Homo sapiens: one gene and its partners. The protein of the gene in region 1 interacts with the protein of each later gene in a pairwise test. Each region holds a gene or a part of one and is shown in the gene's direction. Other genes may lie near its edges.

What was found. Proteins that work in one complex are often made in the same cells at the same time.
Region 2: the proteins of FKBP5 (region 1) and CILK1 interact in binary tests that used the Homo sapiens proteins (3 or more experiments, as listed by UniProt).
Region 3: the proteins of FKBP5 (region 1) and ULK3 interact in binary tests that used the Homo sapiens proteins (3 or more experiments, as listed by UniProt).

The regions. Positions count from the first base shown.
Region 1 is NC_000006.12:35,573,895-35,580,915, reverse strand, and holds part of FKBP5 (peptidyl-prolyl cis-trans isomerase FKBP5), read left to right. Parts: exon of another isoform or gene 1-359; intron 360-694; coding exon 695-880; intron 881-3,682; coding exon 3,683-3,922; intron 3,923-4,973; coding exon 4,974-5,081; 3' UTR 5,082-7,021. UniProt on the Homo sapiens protein: Immunophilin protein with PPIase and co-chaperone activities. Component of unligated steroid receptors heterocomplexes through interaction with heat-shock protein 90 (HSP90).
Region 2 is NC_000006.12:53,051,823-53,058,843, reverse strand, and holds part of CILK1 (serine/threonine-protein kinase ICK), read left to right. Parts: intron 1-7,021.
Region 3 is NC_000015.10:74,840,155-74,848,110, reverse strand, and holds the start of ULK3 (serine/threonine-protein kinase ULK3), read left to right. Parts: upstream 1-4,954; 5' UTR 4,955-5,005; coding exon 5,006-5,107; exon of another isoform or gene 5,108-5,437; coding exon of another isoform or gene 5,438-5,572; intron 5,573-5,690; coding exon 5,691-5,831; intron 5,832-5,915; coding exon 5,916-6,036; intron 6,037-6,601; coding exon 6,602-6,706; intron 6,707-7,403; exon of another isoform or gene 7,404-7,469; coding exon 7,470-7,613; exon of another isoform or gene 7,614-7,794; coding exon 7,795-7,877; intron 7,878-7,956. Other genes in the region: SCAMP2 (secretory carrier-associated membrane protein 2), read left to right, coding at 2,518-2,638, 2,894-3,028. UniProt on the Homo sapiens protein: Serine/threonine protein kinase that acts as a regulator of Sonic hedgehog (SHH) signaling and autophagy.

The DNA.
Region 1 (7,021 bases):
AAAGTAACTTCCTTTTCATTTTTTTAGTGGCATAGTCTAAAACTGCTCACAATCCTTTTGAAAGACTAAAGAATAGGCCAGGTGTGGTGGCTCATGCCTGTAATCCCAGCACTTTGGGAGGCCAAGGCAGGCGGATCACAAGGTCAGGAGTTCAAGACCAGCCTGGCCAACATAGTGAAACGCTGTCTCTACTAAAAATACAAAAAAAAATAGCTGGGCTTGGTGGCGGCCACCTGTAGTCCCCAGCTACTCGGGAGGCTGAGGCAGGAGAATCGCTGGAACCCGGGAGGCGGAGGTTGCAGTGAGCTGAGATGGCGCCATTGCACTCCAGCCCTGGAGACAGTGCGAGACTGTGTCTCAAAAAAAAAAAAAAAAAAAAAAAAAAAAAAGACTAAAGAATATTAGCACCAAAGAACATAGCCCAGAAGCCTTGCTGTACTACACCTGCTGAAGGGACGGATGGAAATGCTGCAGAGCAGCACTAGGCAGTGCTCAGGCACTGCCCCAAACCAGCCCACAGGCCATCGAGGCCTCCAAGGGAGTGGGAAAGGTACCTGGAGAGCCATCTCCAGAAGGAAAGAAAGAAACCAGCTGTACCAGGGTTTGCTGGAGGGGTTGCTTCACTTTGAGGATTTGCTTTTCTTTTGTACCCCCTCAAGAGCTGAGTACAAGTAATGACGCTTTTTTATCCTAGGGAGGCAAATACATGCAGGCGGTGATTCAGTATGGGAAGATAGTGTCCTGGTTAGAGATGGAATATGGTTTATCAGAAAAGGAATCGAAAGCTTCTGAATCATTTCTCCTTGCTGCCTTTCTGAACCTGGCCATGTGCTACCTGAAGCTTAGAGAATACACCAAAGCTGTTGAATGCTGTGACAAGGTAACATCGTGTCTCCTGTGAGATGGACTTTAGATACTCCAGATCTTTTCTCCATCTCTGTCTTTTGCTTCCTCTCAGCCAAAGGTTGCAGGATTTTTCATTTTGCTTTTTTTTATTTATTTGAATGTTTGGGATTATTTGTTTCTCAGTATGAATTGGGAAATTCAGCAAGATTTTTATTACAGTCAGACTTTTATGATACCTAGACTGTTTATCATAATGCATTCTGAAGAAAAGTTTTGATTAAAATTAAATAATTTTTATCCACGACCTTCCTTATAACTGTAGTATTTATATCAGAGTAGACGTATAACTCCTCAGGTTCAGTTTAATAAGAGAAGATTTAACTTAAGCTTTTCTGGACTTTAACAGACTGCAACTGTTCATATAAAGCATATATATAGGTCAATTTTTATTATAATCATTTATTCACTGATATGCATAAATAATATGAAAGGTCCACAGAGCATCAGCAGCCTTTTTATTTTTACATTTGTCTTATTAATACTATCTTTGGTCTTTTGAGTGCTTACACACAGTACTCTATAACAGTGGTTTATCATCTGTATCGTTATGTATCGTTCTGATATATTTATACACCAGCCGATACTATTTTAGGTATCTGGTCTCAGAGTGAACAGTATATATTATACTGTGGGTAAAAGTAAAAACTAATCATTGGATGTATCTTAAAGGTAGACATAAAAGGATAAGAAAAGCAAGGCAACTATTTTGTACATTCTTTGTGAGATTATTTTTGAATTTTGTGGATCAGTGTTTCCTATCGCATCCTCTCTCCCAAGACCAGTTATTAATTTTATATGTATTTTTTCGTTTTTTTCATACAGAGCGGAGAGAGAGAGAGAGAGAGTGTGTGCGCGCGCGCGTGTGTGTGTTTTGTTTGTTTTAGAGACAAGTTGTTGCTATTTTGCCCAGGCTGGGGTGCGGTGGCTATTAATACACATGAACATAATGTACTACAGCCTCAAACTCTGGGGCCCAAGCTATCCTCCCACCTCAGCCTCCTGAGTAGCTGGGACTACAAGTGCATGCCACCACACCCTGCTAATTTTTAAATTTACTTTTGTAGAGATGGGGGTCTTCCAAAGAGCTGGGATTAAAGTTGTGAGGTACCACACCCAGCACAGCCTTGACTACATTATTTTTCTGTCTTCTATTGACAGAAGCAGTCATATAGCATCACTATTAACCCTATCTTTGGCAATAGGAAGCCTGTTCTCCTTATTTTCCTCTTTTTTTTTTTTTTGGAGATGGAGTCTTTCTCTGTTACCCAGTCTGGAGTGCAATGGCACAATCTTGGCTCACTCTAACCTCCACCTCCCGAGTTCAAGCGATTCTCCTGCCTCAGCCTCCCAAGTAGCTTAGACCACAGGTGCCGACCACCACACCAGGCTAATTTTTGTATTTTTAGTAGAGACAGGGTTTCACCATGTTGGCCCGGCTGGTTTCCAATTCCTGACCTCAGGTGATTTGCCACCTCAGCTTCCCAAAGTGCTGGGATTACAGGTGTGAGCCACCACAACCCAGCAATTTTCTTTTAGCTTTGTTGATTATATCTTTCTCTTTAAAGAAGGTTTTAATGTTTATGTAGTCAGATTTGTCGTCTCCTTTCTAGTTAGAAAAGACTTCCCCACACCAAGATTATAAAAATAACTGAAGCCAGGCACAGTGGTTTACACCTGTGACCTGTAACCCCAGGACTTTCGGAGGCTGAGGCGAGAGGATTGCCTGAGCCCAGGAGATAGAGGCTGCAGTGAGCTGTGATTGAGCCACTGCCCTCCAGCCTGGGCGACAGAGTGAGACCCTGCCTCAAAAAAATAATGATTATATTTTACATATTTTAAAATAAAAAATAATTGAAACATTTTATGGTTTTTTTTAATATGTAAATATGGTTGATCTAGAATTTACTTTTGTGCTTACAATATGAGGTAAGAACTTTTTTTTTTTTTTTTTTTTGGAGACAAGAGTCTCACTCTGTCACCCAGCCTGGAGTGCAGTGGCACGATCTCAGCCCACTCCAACCTCCACCTCCCTGGTTCAAGCAATTCTCCTGCCTCAGCCTCCCAAGTAGCTGGGATTACAGGCGCCTGCCACCATGCCCAGCTAATTTTTGTATTTTCAGTAGAGACAGGATTTCGCCATGTTGGCCAGGCTGGTCTCGAACTCCTCACCTCAGGTGATCACCTGCCTCAGCCTCCCAAAGTGCTGGGATTAGGGTGTGAACCACTGCACCCGGCCTTAACTCTTATTTTCTATGTGGATAGCTGCCATCCTGGCCCCGTTTATTTTAAAGTTAACTCTCCACTGATTCACATTACCACCTTTGTCATTTTCAAATGTTTTTATATGCAGACACATGACTGTTTCTGAATGATTCGTTCTGTTCCACTGAGCTGTTTGTCCACATGCTAGTAACCAAACTGTCTTAATTTCAGTAGTTTTAAAGTTTGTCTTTTTCTCTGGTAAGACAAGTGCCTCTTATTTTTTTCTTTTTTCCCAAATTTTTTCAGCCATTCTTGGGCACTTATTTGTTCCAATGAACTTTAAAATGAACTTCTCAAGAGCCCCCTCTCAAATCTCCTTGGGATCTTTCTAGAAATTGCATTAAATGCAGAAAATAATTTGGGTAGTAAATTTTGATCAGTAGTATGTAATTATCTTGAGCCCCATTTTTTTAAATACACTTTTTCCATCTCCTTTGGCAAGAGAACTTTGGTAAGCTGTTTACTGAATTTATTAAAATTCGTCCTTTCTAAAATATAGACCATCTATTCCTAGGCCCTTGGACTGGACAGTGCCAATGAGAAAGGCTTGTATAGGAGGGGTGAAGCCCAGCTGCTCATGAACGAGTTTGAGTCAGCCAAGGGTGACTTTGAGAAAGTGCTGGAAGTAAACCCCCAGAATAAGGCTGCAAGACTGCAGATCTCCATGTGCCAGAAAAAGGCCAAGGAGCACAACGAGCGGGACCGCAGGATATACGCCAACATGTTCAAGAAGTTTGCAGAGCAGGATGCCAAGGTGTGTGCAGAGCCTGATGACTGCAGGTGGATCAAGAGCCTGACCATGCCCCTTTGATTTTAGGGGACAGGAACAGCTAAACAACCCAAGAGGCTCAAGAGCAGGGAAAACGATTTCCAATCTAATCTGAGGCTGCTTTGGATCCAAAGGTCGAGTAGGGCAGTTCCAGTCACCAAAGGCACACGTCATGAGAGATGAGAAAACTAAATTCCCTTCAGATGTATTAGATTGGTTCAAAAGTAATTGTGGTTTTTACCATTACTTTCAATGGCAAAAACAGCAATTTTGCACCAACTCCCCCCGCCCGCCCCCCGGGCCCCTGCCCGAGTCAGAGTCTCACTCTGTCACCCAGACTGTAATGCAGTCGTGCTAACATGGCTCACTGCAGCCTTGACTTCTCTGGATCAAGTGATCCTCCCACCTCAGCCTCCTGAGTAGCTAGGACAAGCACACTACCACACTGGGCTAATTTTTTAAAATTTTTTGTAAAGATAGGGTTTCACTTTGTTGTCTAGGCTGGTCTCGAACCCCTGGCTTCAAGGGTTCCTCCTGCTTTGGTCTCCCAAAGTGCTGGGATTATAGACATGAGCCACCATGCCCAGCCCTTTTGTCATTTTTGAAAAATTGTAAACCCATCAGGATTTTTTTTTCAAGTAAGACTTACGATTTTCCCAGGAAATGGGATGTTATAGGAGCCCCATCATCACACCTGTTATCTTGAGGGTCGGCAGCCAGCCTGAAAAATGTGGCAGGAGAGGTCTGTCTGCAGAGAGGGCGGCCTCCCTACAGCATAGTTGGCATTCTGGTCCTGTCCCCAGTCTCCAGGAATGCCCAGACTTCATTATCCCACAGCTGTCCCATGTGTCAACCAAAGAAAGGTGAAGCTCCCACTCTAACTATTGGTAGCACAGCCCTGACCTACCCAGCTAGATATCCTAGAGAAAATCATTGCAATACCTCGTGTTTGGGACCTGATACACAGTCTGGAGGAGCCAGGAATTATTTCACTTCTTTATTCTCTAACCTTCTTGATTGCTTATTTCTTCCTTAGGAAGAGGCCAATAAAGCAATGGGCAAGAAGACTTCAGAAGGGGTCACTAATGAAAAAGGAACAGACAGTCAAGCAATGGAAGAAGAGAAACCTGAGGGCCACGTATGACGCCACGCCAAGGAGGGAAGAGTCCCAGTGAACTCGGCCCCTCCTCAATGGGCTTTCCCCCAACTCAGGACAGAACAGTGTTTAATGTAAAGTTTGTTATAGTCTATGTGATTCTGGAAGCAAATGGCAAAACCAGTAGCTTCCCAAAAACAGCCCCCCTGCTGCTGCCCGGAGGGTTCACTGAGGGGTGGCACGGGACCACTCCAGGTGGAACAAACAGAAATGACTGTGGTGTGGAGGGAGTGAGCCAGCAGCTTAAGTCCAGCTCATTTCAGTTTCTATCAACCTTCAAGTATCCAATTCAGGGTCCCTGGAGATCATCCTAACAATGTGGGGCTGTTAGGTTTTACCTTTGAACTTTCATAGCACTGCAGAAACCTTTAAAAAAAAAATGCTTCATGAATTTCTCCTTTCCTACAGTTGGGTAGGGTAGGGGAAGGAGGATAAGCTTTTGTTTTTTAAATGACTGAAGTGCTATAAATGTAGTCTGTTGCATTTTTAACCAACAGAACCCACAGTAGAGGGGTCTCATGTCTCCCCAGTTCCACAGCAGTGTCACAGACGTGAAAGCCAGAACCTCAGAGGCCACTTGCTTGCTGACTTAGCCTCCTCCCAAAGTCCCCCTCCTCAGCCAGCCTCCTTGTGAGAGTGGCTTTCTACCACACACAGCCTGTCCCTGGGGGAGTAATTCTGTCATTCCTAAAACACCCTTCAGCAATGATAATGAGCAGATGAGAGTTTCTGGATTAGCTTTTCCTATTTTCGATGAAGTTCTGAGATACTGAAATGTGAAAAGAGCAATCAGAATTGTGCTTTTTCTCCCCTCCTCTATTCCTTTTAGGGAATAATATTCAATACACAGTACTTCCTCCCAGCATTGCTACTGCTCAGCTTCTTCTTTCATTCTAATCCTTGCTATTAAGAATTTAAGACTTGTGCTTACAATATTTTTGACCTGGAGTGGATCTATTTACATAGTCATTTAGGATCCATGCAGCTTTTTTTGTCTTTTTAAGATTATTGGCTCATAAGCATATGTATACTGGTTTATGGAACTTTATTTACACTCCTCTATCATGCAAAAAAATTTTGACTTTTTAGTACTAAGCTTAATTTTTAAAAACAAAATCTGTAGGGTTGACAAATAAATAGTTGCTCTTCTACACTAGGGGTTTCACCTGCAGGTTTGACACGCAGTTGCTCGCTTTTCCTGCCCTGTCAAGCTTCTCTGTTCTGGCGTGAGTTGTGAAAGAGTTGAAGACAGCTTCCCATGCCGGTACACAGCCAGTAGCCTAAATCTCCAGTACTTGAGCTGACCATTGAACTAGGGCAAGTCTTAAATGTGTACATGTAGTTGAATTTCAGTCCTTACGGGTAAACAGATTGAGCATGGCTCTCTATTCCCTCAGCCTAAGAAACACTCATGGGAATGCATTTGGCAACCCAAGGAACCATTTGCTTAAACCTGGAACATCTCACCTTTTTAAATCCTAAAAAACACTGGCAGTTATATTTTAAATTAGTTTTTATTTTTATGATGGTTTTATCAAAAGACTTTTATTATTAGATTGGGACCCCCTTCAAACCTAAAAATCAAGTTATTTCCTTTTATAATACTTTTCTTCCCCATGGAACAAATGGGATCAATTTGTGAGTTTTTTCCTTTAATGATAACTAAAATCCCTCTAATTTCTCATTTATGCTTTTGTCTTTTTTATGAAATATTTCTTTTAAAAGCCCCAGTCTCACCTACGAAATATGAAGAGCAAAAGCTGATTTTGCTTACTTGCTAAACTGTTGGGAAAGCTCTGTAGAGCATGGTTCCAGTGAGGCCAAGATTGAAATTTGATACTAAAAAGGCCACCTAGCTTTTTGCAGATAACAAACAAGAAAGCTATTCCAAGACTCAGATGATGCCAGCTGTCTCCCACGTGTGTATT
Region 2 (7,021 bases), about 17 Mb from region 1:
TTGATGTCTGCCCTTATAAAATGCATTTTTCTGCTTGTGGGATCTATGTGAGTGTGTGTATTTGCCTGGTGGTTCCTTGGGAGAATTCTGGATATAATGACCTCTCTGTGTATGTTGATCTGAAAGCCTGTGAATAGTATCTCATTTAACTGTTGTCTTTCACCTGTGGTCTTTGATGACTGTGGCTTTCTGAGAAGGGCCTATGTTTAGAGTATTAGAACTCTCCTATCTGTGAACCTCAGTGTTTATGGTTGATGTGGTTGAATCAGGGAGAATGCGCAAACAGAGGTGTGTGTGTGCCGGATGACTTATACACGTTTTGGGATTACAGTGTAATTGTGTCTTAGTTTGTGGTTGTGCTTACCTTTGAAATACAGTTTTAACTTCCTTATAAAAGCACATGTGTTCTAGAAAATTACCTAGTAAAAAGAATTTGGTGAAACAAATCATTTTCTGGGGCAAATTGCATTAAAATGCTAAGGAAATGTTGTGGCAGGAAGAAAATCAGAGATGCCTTTGATTGCAGCCAAAGAAGTAAAAGCAGCAGCTCAGGCCTACCTCAAGGTGGTAACCAAGGTTGATATGGGCATCTTCATTCAATCTGTCTGCTCCTAGTTAACTGCTGTCCAATATTAGGAAAAACTACTACTCAACAGGTTTTAGGGAAACACTCAACCCAAACAGAAGGCTTCTATTCCTGATTTTCTTCCAAGGAAACTGAACTATCTTTGCACATTAAGTACCTGACTCTCTGTGCTTTGAAAGTTGAAGTCTTCCTGGGTAGGAAGAGTGTCTTGTCGTGGGACTTACCTGAGCAGGCTGAAATCAAATCCAACATATGTTGACATGTGAAGTCATGTTTGAGTTTGAGGATAGCACATCTTCAAACATCTGCTCCCCCCTTTTTTTAAACTATATGGGCTCAGGATTAGCAAAATATTCATATGCTTTTTACCAAGGAGCACGTGGGGAACATTTGATACATCTTTAGTTGGCTATAAAACATGTATTATACTCACACATTTCAAAATATTCTACTCTGAAGATAGCAAGTATTCTGTTCTTCTTAGTTGGATCTCATCTGTAGAGTGAGAATGTCAAGTGATCATTAAGGTCCTTTACAGAAAAAAAAAATTCTTAACTCTATTGTCTGAAGTTTGTTCAACATTAGGCTTTGAACATAGTTCCTAATGAATTTAGCATTCAAATCTATGTTAATTAGCATTCAGTTATATTTTATCTTTAAATAAGCTCATCATGGCTGCTATAAAAGATAATGCCTCTGAACCAAAAGATAAAGTATTATAAGTGTGATGTCCAACTATATTTGACAATATCATGAAAGTAACTATCTGCGTGAACTTGTAGTTCCTAGCAGATGATTGTCATCCTAACTCACTTTTTTTGAAATGAAAGGGCCACAATAGTGCCTTGCTTTTCATTTGGTGCTTTTCCCACCATGTCAAGAACCCTTAGTAGCCACTTAATAAATGTATAACGATGGCCCAGAGCTTATGAGAACCACACGTTTTTTTAGGAGAGATCAGTGTGAGTTATTTTTTACCTTTCTATAGGTGAAGCATGACCTGTGATAAAGTATTGATAACATGTGACTGCTCTTTTGACTACCATAAAAGATAATGCCTGAGAACCGGAAAGGAAAGTACTATTGTATAATGCCCAAATACGTATTTGGCAATATCATGAAAGTTACTATCTGCATGAACTTGTGGTTCCCAAAAGATAGTTATTAATGGTTTTGCCCTCTTGGACATTGCCTTTGCTTTGAAAGAGAATTTACTAGAGAATGATTTAACTAAGACAAAGGGGAGTAAGAAAAATGTAAGATATACATGCCTTCATGTGATCTTAGCTGTTGAAAAGCAAGTTTTTTCCTAAATTAGTGTAAAAGTTTTTAGAAGGAGTCATAATTTTGGTACCCTAGTCCCAGTACAGTTGTCCAGTTTGCAAAGAAGTGGGGCGTGACGGGATGACAGTGAGGGTGGACGTGGTAGTATAGGAAAATCATCTATGGTCAGGATTGCCTTTTAAAGCTCCATAAGTTGTTCATTCATTAGTTAATTCATTGAACATGTCTTTATTGTGAGTCCGTACTTGTGCCAACTATGCCAGTTCTCTGGGAACTGAGTACTGGGAATACAGTTGTGAATATTGCAACGTTTCTGACCTCACAGAGCTTATATTCTAAGGTTAAACACAGCTTGTATGTAGCCCTGTAACCTAGGGGTAAGTGAGGGCTCTATGGAGAGTACTAAAGTGCTTCTGCTTATTTGGGGGATTTCCTCATCTTCAGGGCTTGACAAACTATGGCTTGTGTGCCAGTCCTTCCTGCTGCCTGTTTTTGTAAATAAATTTGTACTGGAACACAGCCATGCCCATGTATTTACATATTGTCTTTGACTGCTTTCATGCTACAATGGCAGAGTGGAGTTGTGACGGAGATGGAGAGCCTGCAAAGCCTATCCTGTTTACTGACCCTTCACAGAAAAAACGTGCTTATCCCTGCCCTATTTTATTTTTACATTAAGCCTTTACTTCCTTTAATTCATTTTGATTTTTTGTATACATGCTAGCAAAGCATCTTACACTGAGATCAGCTCCTTAGTCAAATGTGTTGTAATAGCATATAAATACTGATAACATGTGGCTGTCCTTGTAACTACCGTAAAAGATAATGCGTTAGAACCAGAAAGGTAAAGTATTATTGTGTAACGTCCAGCTACTTATTTGCCAGTATCATGAAAGTTACTATCTACATGAACTTGTGATATGCTCTTAGTCACTCCCCTATCTTCACTATCCCTTATCTTGCCCACCCCTGAAACACAGGCAAGCAGGACTATTGCCACCCTCGGCAGTTTTCATTAAGCTGGGGACTCTCGTTCTAGCTCATCTACAGTTTCACACATGGCAGGGTAAAGGTTTGTTTTTCTGGCTGTTTTTTTATTTTTTATTTTTTTTAACATTTCGCCTTTACTTCAGTTCTTTACAGTCCACCAAAGCCAACTATGTGTCCTAGTTTAAAAATCATCTGCAAGTGATTGAAGAACTTTTTTAAGGTTCAAGGCGTGAGCACCTTTTATATTGTAAGAGAAGCGACAGGGAGTTATGGAAGCTTCTCATGGGATTAAGGACCTAGTGCAGGACGAGTTCTTTTTTCAGAAGCTGGGATTGAAAGAGGAGAGGGATGGTAAAGGTATGAAGAAGTTTCTGGGGCACAGAAGAAGGCACATCATGTAACGGATTATCTTCTCTTGTTAACATCCAGTTGATGCAATAGCTGAATGCATCTTTAATTCACTCCTCTGTCAAGGTAAAGACAAAGCAAGATCCATGTAAAGAAGGTCCTTTTGGCTTTGTAACTGCTATTCCTTATGCAGAAAAAAAGCAGTAGTCCAAGAGGCAAAATGCTTAAAAGGTTTGCTTGCTAAAATGTACAGAGGCAGAAGAATTAGGTCCAGGAGAAAAACATAAACCCGGATATACTATTTCTAGTACCTTTTTAAAAGAAATTAACAGTATTCACTGACTTTTGTAAAGTTAGGACACATTCAAACCTAGAATACGAAGTCTAATTATAAACCTGTAAAGGTAAAATGGAACTCAGAATTACCATGAGAAGGGTCATCTAATGATTTTGCATATAATCCACTTTTCCTAGGAGGATAAATGAAAGTAACAGAATCTTTTCAATGTAAGATAATTAATGCAAAGGGAGACAAGCTCCTTCTAAGGAACTGAATGGTGTCAGTGGGCCTGGTAAACCACAACTCCCAGAGAACCCCAAGTTTGCTGTAACTTTTTGTCTCCTGTCTTAGAAAATGTGTAATGATGGCATTAATTCATTGATTAAGGTTTCAAAATAAAGAATGAACTACAATTTTCCCTGCCCCTCGCCTCCATTTTTTAGGCTGTGAATGAGCAAGGCACCTGATGTGAGCTGCTGGCCATGAGCAAATGTTCTTTGCCTCCACCGAGGATTGACGCTGAGGGGAGGGAATTGGGGCAAATCACAGGAAGCTTTTCCCCAATGTCACCTAGCCAGGAACATCATAACATTGACTTCAAAGGTTTGCTGGAACTCTTTGAAAGAGAGATAAAGCTGTCTTTCTTTGGTAGTTGAGTACAGCCTTACCCAAAGGCCAAAGGCCTGATCTGACCGCATGGAGGGGGACTTTCTGTGATCCTCTGAGACTCAGTCATCTTGGCATTGTTGTGGGAGGGCCCAGGCTGCCTGCCTGCCCCAGCTATTCTGTGGTATTCACTGTTCTTCCACTTCAGAACTTCAGAACTTTTAGTTGGGCCCAACAGTTTATCTTTGTTTTGTGTATGACAAAATAGAAGCACTGAGAATTTTGAGGTACTTAGCCAAGGTGGTACAGAAAATAATAGCAAAGACTAAAACTCACATTTGGGCCCTTCAAACAATCTTTGAGGACTTGCTACTGCAAGTGGAGTGAGAAGACAAAGATGAAGCAGTCTTGGAGAGTGTCGAGGCTGAAGCAGAGGGTACACCTGCAGGTCATTGCCACGGGGAAGGGGCTGGCAGTGAGGTGAGGACAAGGCACTATGGCATCAAGGGAGAGGACCATTCTCGGGTCTATATGTGTAGGTTGGGGCAGGAGGCTTGGAAGAGGTGACATGTGAGCTCGAAAGAGAAGGAATCGATGTTTAATGTTTACTGGGGCCTGGCTGAGGCACTGGGGCACTTGTGCATCTCTTGAAAGAAAGGTGTGTAGCATACAGGGTCCTTCGGTGGCACTGTCTTCTCCGCTAACCTTTGTTCATGTGATGCAAAAAGCAGAAACATTTATCCTTTTTTTTTTCTTAGACAAATGCTAGCTCAATTCCTGATACAGAGTCACAGAATCACACAGCTTTAGAGGAAGAAACCACCTTAGAGCAAGTCCCATGCCCTAATTCCACCAAAAGTAAACTCAAGGACCAAGAGATGCCCCGAGGCACAGCAGATCAGTGCTGAGTGGAAACTGGAACCAGTCCCTCACTTTGCCTCCACTGTGGGCATGTTGGTGCTGCCAATGGCTCCAGAGGATTCGCTGATATTTGATTGCAGAATGAAGACAATTAGAACATAGCCATATCATTCATTTTCATATTTGGGCTTTGAGATACAAAGTACTACTTCTGTTCCTGTCATTTTCAGATCCTCCAAAGATTTCATGATCTTTTGAAAGCTTTCCCTTAAGTTTGGTACAGTCAGCCTGGGTTCCTGTCTCATTTCTGCCACATTAGTCGTATAATCTAGACATGTAACTTGTGTCTCAGTTTCCTTCTCTGTAAAATAGGGATAATTGTAATAGTACCTGCCTGGTAGAATTATGAGGGTTAAATGTACTAATATATGCATAAGCACTTATAATAGTACTATGCACATACTAAGTACTAAAATTATCATGTTTTGGGCATATTTGATATATGAGGGTGCTAAGTGTAGATTCGTTGTAGTGAATGATTTATCCAAGTTAATTCTTGGAGTCAAAGCAGAATTTAGAAATACTGCGAGTTAGAAATACATGCTAATTCTCAAGGTAATGGACAGGCTGCTACATTCCATTCACTTCTCAAGCAGTGTTAACTATCTGTACCAGAAGCTGAATTTAAATGCTGTCAGGGCAGAGGAGGAAAATAAAAGACTCAAGGAAGCTGGGTGTGTGCTTGTCAAACAGTAAGAAATTGCTCTTCTCTTCTAAAAAAGAACAATTTTTCTTCTCTTCCAATTTTTCTTTAAGTATAAGGTTTTTTTTTTTTTCAGGCTTTTACTTTGTCACTTTTGTTATAGGCATAGGAACAGAGAAATATTTTTCATCCAGTAAAACAAGTGGCTATGAAGGCACACAAAAAAATGACAGCTAAAAAAAAAAAATGGCAAGTGGCAACAGGCAAAAAATGGGGACTGTGGTGAGCTGCAGAGCACACGCCCAGCCTGAAGAGGTACGGACATTTCTTCCACTTCTTATTACCGTGAAGGGCTAAGGACCCCAGGTGGTTAGACCTTCAGTGTTTCCAGAGAAGCTCCAAATAGGGATTTATATAGGAAATTCCCTATTTTTTATTTATTGATTTTTTTTTTTTTGAGACAGAATCTCACTCTGTCCCAGGGTGGAGTACAGTGGTGCGATCTCTGCTCACTGCAACCTCCGCCTCCTGGGTTCAAGCAATTCTCCTGCCTCAGCCTTCTGAGTAACTGGGATTACAGGCATACACCACCACGCCTGGTTAATTTTTGTATTTTTAGTAGAGACAGGGTTTCACCATGTTGGCCAGGCTGATCTCGAACTCCTGACCTTGTGATCTGCTGCCCTTGGCCTCCCAAAGTGTTGGGATTACAGGTGTGAGCCACTGTGCCCTGCCGAAATTCCCTATTTTTAAATCTGGGATTCAGCCCCCAGAGTGCCAGTGTGCCATCTCTGGTCTACACAGCATGGAATCTCCATATGCTAATGTCATATACTCAGAGATTTCAGGCTAGAATTGTCAAGTCTTGTTCACTATGCAAAGTTAGAAGTATGCTTGGATAAAGAAAATGTACATATACACCATGGAATACTTTGCCGCTATAAAATGGTATGAGATCATGTCCTTTGCAGGGACATGGATGAAGCTGGAAGCCATCATCCTCAGCAAACTAACACAGGAACAGAAAACCAAACACTGCATGTTCTCACTCATAAGCAGGAGTTGAACAATGAGAATACATGGACACAGGGAGGGGAACAACACACACCAGGGCCTGTTGTGGGGTAGGTGGGACGAGGGGAGGGAACTTACAGGACGGGTCAATAGGTGCAGCAAACCTCCATGGCATACGTATACCTATGTAACAAACCTGCACATTCTGCACATGAATTCCGGAACTTAAAGTAAAATAAAAGAGATAAGTACATTCTATATTTTAAAACAGAATGTCCTTGTTCGCTGGGTAAGTAAGCACAGATTTCTGATTTCATTTCTAAAACACCCAACTTTGAATGAATAACAC
Region 3 (7,956 bases), on another chromosome or scaffold:
GGGTGACAGAGTGAGATCCTGTATCAAAAAAAAAAAAAAAAGACACTATCTTCCCTTGCTCTCCACTTTCCAGGGTATTGTGGGTGAACTTGGCTTGACTCTTTAGGCTACCATGACAGTGTCCTGCACTGGATTGCAGCCTCTTCCTTTTCTCCTGCCACACCCTCCTGAAAGCTGATGGATGCCCAGGCCTTTGCAGACTCTGAGCTGCAACTTTTTCCAGATGCCTTGTAACTTAAGGAGACGGTTCCCTCACCTCCCCTGGACAGGCTTCTTCTGGCTGCCCTCTTTGAGCATACGGCTGGTTTGAGTTTCCAGGGTACCTCAGTCCTCAGCTCAAAATTAATCTCAAAAGAAAAGCTGATGGCTGATGTTTTCCTTTCTGCCCCAGTGCACAGGGAGCATTGCAGAAAGGTCAGACTGGCACTTGGCTGACAGCCTGAGCCTGGAAGGGCGGTGCTATTTTGGTCCCCTCCCTCTGGCAGAGCTGGCAAGTCCAGAGCAGTGGGGAGAGAAAGGTTGCCTCCCCTTGCCCTCCAAACAAGTGCACGCTGCCCTCCCACCACCCCTCATGCTTCTTGCCCTGCTGTTGTTAATCTGGTCCCTTTTGACCAGTGACCCAATTTCATTACTCCTTACCTAAGTAAGACCCTGGTAGAAAAGCTGTGATTCATGACTGCCGTTTGCACCTGTACTGGGAATCAGAAGGCTTGAGTTGGCTGGGTGCGGTGGCTCATGCCTGTAATCCCAGCACTTTGGGAGGCCAAGGCGGGTGGATCACCTGAGGTCAGGAAGGAGTTTGAGACCAGCCTGGCCAACATGGCAAAACCTTGTTTCTAGAGAGTACAAAAATTGGCCAGGCGCATTGGTAGGTGCCTATAATCCCAGCTACTTGGGAGGCTGAGGCAGAAGAATCACTTGAACCCGGGAGGTGGAGGTTGCAGTGAGCCGGGATCACACCACTGTTCTCCAGCCTGGGCTACAGAGCAAGACTCAATCTCAAAAAAAAAAAAAAAAAAAAAAATTAACTGACAATAGGTGTATGGGTTTATTTCTGGAATCTCAGTTCTATTCCATTGATCTATTGATCTATATGTCTATGTTTATGCCAGTCCTACACTATTTTAGTGACTGTAGCTTTGTAGTAAGTTTTGATGTCAAGAAATATGAGGATATCCCTTTTACAGATGAGGACATGGGGCTCAGACAGGTGACAGCAAGTTGGCCAGTGATCCTCCTTCACAGAAGGTGGGTCCTCAGGAGTGAGCAGCCACGCTTTCCATACTCCCCACCCCCAAAGCAGCAGAAAAAGGCCCGGCCCAGTGCTACCTTTTTAATTAATTATTTTTTGAGATGGAGTCTCTGTTGCCCAGACTGGAGTGCAGTGCCGCGATCTCTGCTCACTGCAAGCTCCGCCTCCCAGGTTCACGCCATTCTCCTGCCTCAGCCTCCCGAGTAACTGGGACTATGTAGGTGCCTGCCACCATGCCTGGCTCATTTTTTGTATTTTTAGTAGAGATGGGGTTTCACTGTGTTAGCCAGGATGGTCTCGATCTGCTGACCTCGTGATCCGCCCATCTTGGCCTCCCAAAGTGTTGGGATTACGGGCTTGAGCCACTGTGCCCAGCCCTTTTTCTTTTTTCTTTTCTTTTTTTTTTTTTTTTGGAGACAGGGTCTCACTCTGTTGCTCAGGCTGGAGTGCCGTGGCGTGATCACAGCTCACTGCAGCCTTGAACCTCACGGGCTCAAGTGATCCTCCTACCTCAGCATCCCAAGTAGCTGGGAGCATAGGCATGTATGACCACAGCCAGCTAATTTTTTTTTTTTTTGAGTTGGAGTCTCGCCCTGTCACCTAGGCTGGAGTACAATGGCATGATCTCGGCTCACTGCAGCCTGCACCTTCCAGGTTCAAGTGATTCTCCTGCCTCAGTCTCCCGAGTAGCTGGGATTGCAGGCGTGTGCAACCACGCGCAGCTAATTTTTGTATTTTTAGTAGAGCAAGGTTTCTCCATGTTGGCCAGGCTGGTCTCAAACTCCTGACCTCAAGTGATCTGCCTTCCTTGGCCTCCCAAAGTGCTGGGATTACAGGCACGAACCTGGCCTTTTTTTATTTTTTATGGAGACAGGGCCTCCCTCTGTTGCCCAGGTTGGTCTTGAACTCTTGGGCTCAAGCGATCCTCCTGCCTCAGCCTCCCAAAGTGCTGGGATTACAGGTGAGAGCCATAGCACCCAGCCCGGTGCTACTTCTGACTCTGTGAAGGCAGCAACCACATCCTCCCTTTCAGACCTCACATAACCAGAAGATTCCCCTTGTGAATGGGGTAGTGTGGGCCTGTCAGCCTTCACGGAGGTCTGGCCTCACAGGCCAAGGGCTTCTGGCTCACAGGGCTCCCTGTGCTGTGGGGAGATGCCAAGGTGATGGTCAGGACACAGCAGCCACTTGGAGAAGAGCCCCTTATGCTGACTTTTGGAGCCCACTCCCACTTTGCTCCCTCTGGCCTCTTCTTCCCTTTATAGCGGTTGGATTGCAGCCCTGTCTACACTGGATAATCATTCCCTGGCCATATCAGTCATCATGATGGTGGTGGCTGGCTTCTTCACCCTCTGTGCCGTGCTCTCAGTCTTCCTCCTGCAGCGGGTGAGTGGTGTGGGCAGGGCTGACAGCAAATGGGAGGAGGCAGGCAACCGTTTCCTGCCCTTGCCACGAGATGTTTTTCACCACTGCAGTTGGGCATCCTAGGCCCCCAAAGGTCCAGTACCTTTCTCCAGGGATCTGGGTGGGGGGTCAGGCAGTGCCAGGCTTCTGGTGACCCCTTTGGGAGTATAACCTGGATGGCTGGCTTCCTGGTGGGCCCAAAGGACAGGCTTCTCTCACCCCACCCCTCTTCGCCAGGTGCACTCCCTCTACCGACGGACAGGGGCCAGCTTCCAGCAGGCCCAGGAGGAGTTTTCCCAGGGCATCTTCAGCAGCAGAACCTTCCACAGAGCTGCTTCATCTGCTGCCCAAGGAGCCTTCCAGGGGAATTAGTCCTCCTCTCTTCTCTCCCCCTCAGCCTTTCTCTCGCCTGCCTTCTGAGCTGCACTTTCCGTGGGTGCCTTATGTGGTGGTGGTTGTGCCCAGCACAGACCTGGCAGGGTTCTTGCCGTGGCTCTTCCTCCTCCCTCAGCGACCAGCTCTCCCTGGAACGGGAGGGACAGGGAATTTTTTCCCCCTCTATGTACAAAAAAAAACAAAGCTCTCTTTCCTTCTCTGGTGATGGTTTGGTAGGATTCTTTTGTCTCTGGAAGCAGTGGGACTGAAGTTCTCTTCGTCCTGTGCACACACAGACACCCCCACACAGTTGGGATCACAGGCTGACCTGGGCCCATCCCAGCTGGAGCTTTCTGCCAGGGTCCTGGGCCTTGACTCCCCCACCCTGCAGGCCTGGCCTGAATCTGGCTTCTTAGACACAGCCCAGTCCTTCCTGCCTGGGCTGGGAATAAGCCTCTCACAGGTTCTGGTGGACAGATCTGTTCCCCAGGTCACTCCAGTGGTCTCCAGGCTTCCAGAGAAGGCTGGTTGCCTCAAGCTCTTCTCTGCCTCATAAACGGATCCAGAGAAGGCTGGTTGCCTTAAGCTCTTCCCTGCCTCGTGTTCCTGAGAAACGGATTAATAGCCCTTTATCCCCCTGCACCCTCCTGCAGGGGATGGCACTTTGAGCCCTCTGGAGCCCTCCCCTTGCTGAGCCTTACTCTCTTCAGACTTTCTGAATGTACAATGCCGTTGGTTGGGATTTGGGGACTGGAAGGGACCAAGGACACTGACCCCAAGCTGTCCTGCCTAGCGTCCAGCGTCTTCTAGGAGGGTGGGGTCTGCCTGTCCTGGTGTGGTTGGTTTGGCCCTGTTTGCTGTGACTACCCCCCCCCCTCCCCGAACCGAGGGACGGCTGCCTTTGTCTCTGCCTCAGATGCCACCTGCCCCGCCCATGCTCCCCATCAGCAGCATCCAGACTTTCAGGAAGGGCAGGGCCAGCCAGTCCAGAACCGCATCCCTCAGCAGGGACTGATAAGCCATCTCTCGGAGGGCCCCCTAATACCCAGTGGAGTCTGGTTCACACCCTGGGGGGTGTGTCACTGTGATGGGACACGTAGGAGTCCACCCTTAAAACCAGCACCCTGTCCCTCGAGGCTGCCGAGTGGGTGTGTGGACTGGGGTGCCTTCCCACAAAACTAGCCTCCGGCTCTGGGCCCGAGACAGCCGCAGGCCCCAGCCACTGAATGATACTGGCAGCGGCTGGGGTTTTATGAACTCCTTTCTGGTATTTTTTCCCCTCTATGTACAAATGTATATGTTACGTCTCAATTTTTGTGCTTAAGTAAAAATAAAAACATTTTCAGACAACACGGGTCCACATGTCTGGTGGACTTGGGAGGACGGGGCAGCCCACAGGATTAGGGGCTGGGCGCCGCTGCTAAGATTGGAGAGCGGGGACAGTTAAGATGCAATAAATAGGTCAAGGCCCTTCCTCAGAAAAGTGAAAAGCAGCTGGGAGGCCTGGGAAGCCAACGCGGCCTCTTCCAAAGGCGCCTTCTCGTGCCAGTAGCTCTCCTTTCAGAGCTGCGGGTCCTGGGGAGGGGCCCTGGGAGCCTCCCGGACGCCGTCGCCCCCACACACGCCCGCTCCGCCGCCCGCGCCCTCACGTGGGCGATCTCTAGACGCCTCTGCGCCCGCTAGGAGTCCCCGGAGACCACGCCGGCCGTCCTCCGTTGTTAACTTCTAGGCTCGCGGGGCCTCCGTATCCCCACGTGGGCCCTGCAGGAACTGGCGGGGCGCGTGACCCGGCGAGGCCCAGAGACAGGGGAGGGGCGCCGGGAGCCGGGCGGATCCGCGTCCCCGATGCGCGCTGCATTTCCGGCGGGCGGCGCTGGGGGCAGCGTGGAGCCACCCAGTGCTCGGCCCGCCCCGCAACCCGCCGGAACCGCCGCCCGCAGCGAGGAAGCGCCCGCGCGGGCGCAGGCGGCCGGAATGGCGGGGCCCGGCTGGGGTCCCCCGCGCCTGGACGGCTTCATCCTCACCGAGCGCCTGGGCAGCGGCACGTACGCCACGGTGTACAAGGCCTACGCCAAGGTGGGTGCCGGCCGATGGCCCCGTGCCCGCCCGAGCTAGCTCGGCTGGTGCCGGCCGGGGAGACTCTGAGAGGTTAGCGACAGTGTGGGAATAGTTAGGGGCGGGAGGCCGGCCTCGCCCCAGCTGACCCTCGGCGGAGGTTGGAGCCGACTGCCACGCTTAGGTCTTAAAGAGCGCACCTGCACCCACCTGCAGGGTCAGTGGCTGAAGAACAGGCTCAAAACAGGTTACCTGGTGGGCTGGGAGGAGTCTGGGACTGGAGCCAGTTGGGAGGCAGAGTGGGCGGTTCTAGAACCCTGAGTGACATGCCTCTGCCGGGAGCACTCCAGAATGCAAAGAAATGGATCAGCTAGCCGAGGGTTGGAGAAGACCAGGCTGAGGCTGTGTCGGGAAGCCAGGATTCCAGAATCAGCATTCCTCACTGGCCTCACAAGGGAAAGCTGGGAAGCCCGGTGCTGGTGTGCAGTAGGTAGACCCGGGGAGGGGCGGGGTGGGGGAACAGAGGGAACCAGATAGAGCCTTTCCAGTCAGACAAGGGTCCTGGCCCCCTCAAGGCAGAGTCCCCAAATCTCCTGTCTCGCAGAAGGACACTCGTGAAGTGGTAGCCATAAAGTGTGTAGCCAAGAAAAGTCTGAACAAGGCATCGGTGGAGAACCTCCTCACGGAGATTGAGATCCTCAAGGGCATTCGACATCCCCACATTGTGCAGCTGAAAGACTTTCAGGTGTGAGCCTGGGGCGGGGCCGCTGCCAAAGGGAGCTGGAGAAGGGACACTCTCTTCAGGCCGCCTCTCTGCCTCTAAACACAGTGGGACAGTGACAATATCTACCTCATCATGGAGTTTTGCGCAGGGGGCGACCTGTCTCGCTTCATCCATACCCGCAGGATTCTGCCTGAGAAGGTGGCGCGTGTCTTCATGCAGCAATTAGGTAAAGGCCTGTGACACCAGCCTGACACTCTGTCCCTTGTTCTCTGCCCCCCACCATCCCACCCCTCCCCCAGGCTTAGAGCCTTGGCACGCATTGCAGCTGCCTCCTGCACAGCCTGAAATTTTATGGTCCTGTTTATCTCATACACTCAACCCTTGCTCAAGGACGCTGTGGGAGAGATGAGGGGGTAACCCCTCTGTGGGGTGTTCAGGCTTCCATACATAGAACATAATATAAGGACCTTGTAGAACATTCCAGAGTCCTGTAGGTAGGACTCAAGTGCTGTGCCAAGGAAAAGAGCAGGATCTCAAGGGCTGGGGCATCCAGAGAAGCTTCTGAGAGGTGGGGAGACTTGTGAAGGGGCAGAGGGAAGGAGGGTGGGCACTCGGGTGGGGTGGCAAACTCCTAGAAGTGGTGTGATCTTGGTGCTTATATGGAAAACATTAGACCAGCCAGGCAGGAACTGGGGTTGTGCAGGCTTGAGGAGGCAGATGTGAGCCGGGGAGGCGAGAGGCAGGCGGGAATGGGCTCTGAACTGTCTCTCTTCGTGGGTCCTGCTCCTCAGCTAGCGCCCTGCAATTCCTGCATGAACGGAATATCTCTCACCTGGATCTGAAGCCACAGAACATTCTACTGAGCTCCTTGGAGAAGCCCCACCTAAAACTGGCAGGTCTGTGTCTGAAACAGCAGGGATGAGGTTTGGAGAGTGCAGAGGCCTCCCTCTGCCTGGGCTCACTCAGCAGCCCTGGTTCTTATGGAGCCCTCTATAGAGTCCTCAAAGAGTGACAGGCCGTGAAGTCTGGGGTTGGGCCCTGTCATCAAAAGGTGGAAGCTTTCTCAGGCTACCCATGCTCAAGTCCAGCAGCATAATGGGTGGAGTTAGGGCTCAGTCTGTGGCCAGAGTTGGGACTCACTGTGTGTCCAGGTTTAGGGGTCAATCTGGGAACAGTGCCAGGGTTCAGCGTGTGACAAGCATCAGGGATCCCTCTGTGGGCAGGGACAGGACTTGGTCTGTCATCAGAATTGGGGCTCAAGTCTGTGACTCCATCTGTGGCCACATAGGAGGGGTGTGGTGGGGGAGTAGGAGGTGGTGACCCTTGATAAGATTTGGATAATTGACACTGGAGGCCAGAGACTGTGATAGAACCTAAGCCTGGGGGGACAGTGAGAGGGTGGGGGCTTATGCAGGTAGCTGGTGTGATCAGGTGGGCTTCCTAGGAAAAGGTGCCCAAGGGAGCTGGGAAGGATGGGTAGGTTTTATACCCCAGAGGCAGATATAGGAGGGTGTTCCAGCCTAATGATGAGCAGAGGCTTGGAAATAGGGTTGATCCTGGCGGGTCTGGAGGGTGGAGAGGAGCCTGGGGTGAGGCTTTACAAGTCAGGAGCTGAAGCAGCTGGAATTCAAGCCCTGCTGCCTCTCCTCTTGCCTGCAGACTTTGGTTTCGCACAACACATGTCCCCGTGGGATGAGAAGCACGTGCTCCGTGGCTCCCCCCTCTACATGGCCCCCGAGATGGTGTGCCAGCGGCAGTATGACGCCCGCGTGGACCTCTGGTCCATGGGGGTCATCCTGTATGGTGAGACCTCTTTTCCCTGCTTCTCACCCTGAGGCCTACAGTTTCCTCAGGCAAGGCCTCTCTGGGCCACTTCTGAAGGGTTCTGATGAAAACTGACTGCTGGCCCAGGGCCCCTGCTGAGGGGCGTCAGGCCAGGCTTGACCCATTCCCTCCCAGCCTCCGCTCTGCCTCCCTTCCACAGAAGCCCTCTTCGGGCAGCCCCCCTTTGCCTCCAGGTCGTTCTCGGAGCTGGAAGAGAAGATCCGTAGCAACCGGGTCATCGAGGTGTGTCTAGCAGGGCCTTAGCGACCACTGGGGGGCAGAGGGAGTCAGGGCCCTGAGGGTTTAGACCTCGTTCTGACCT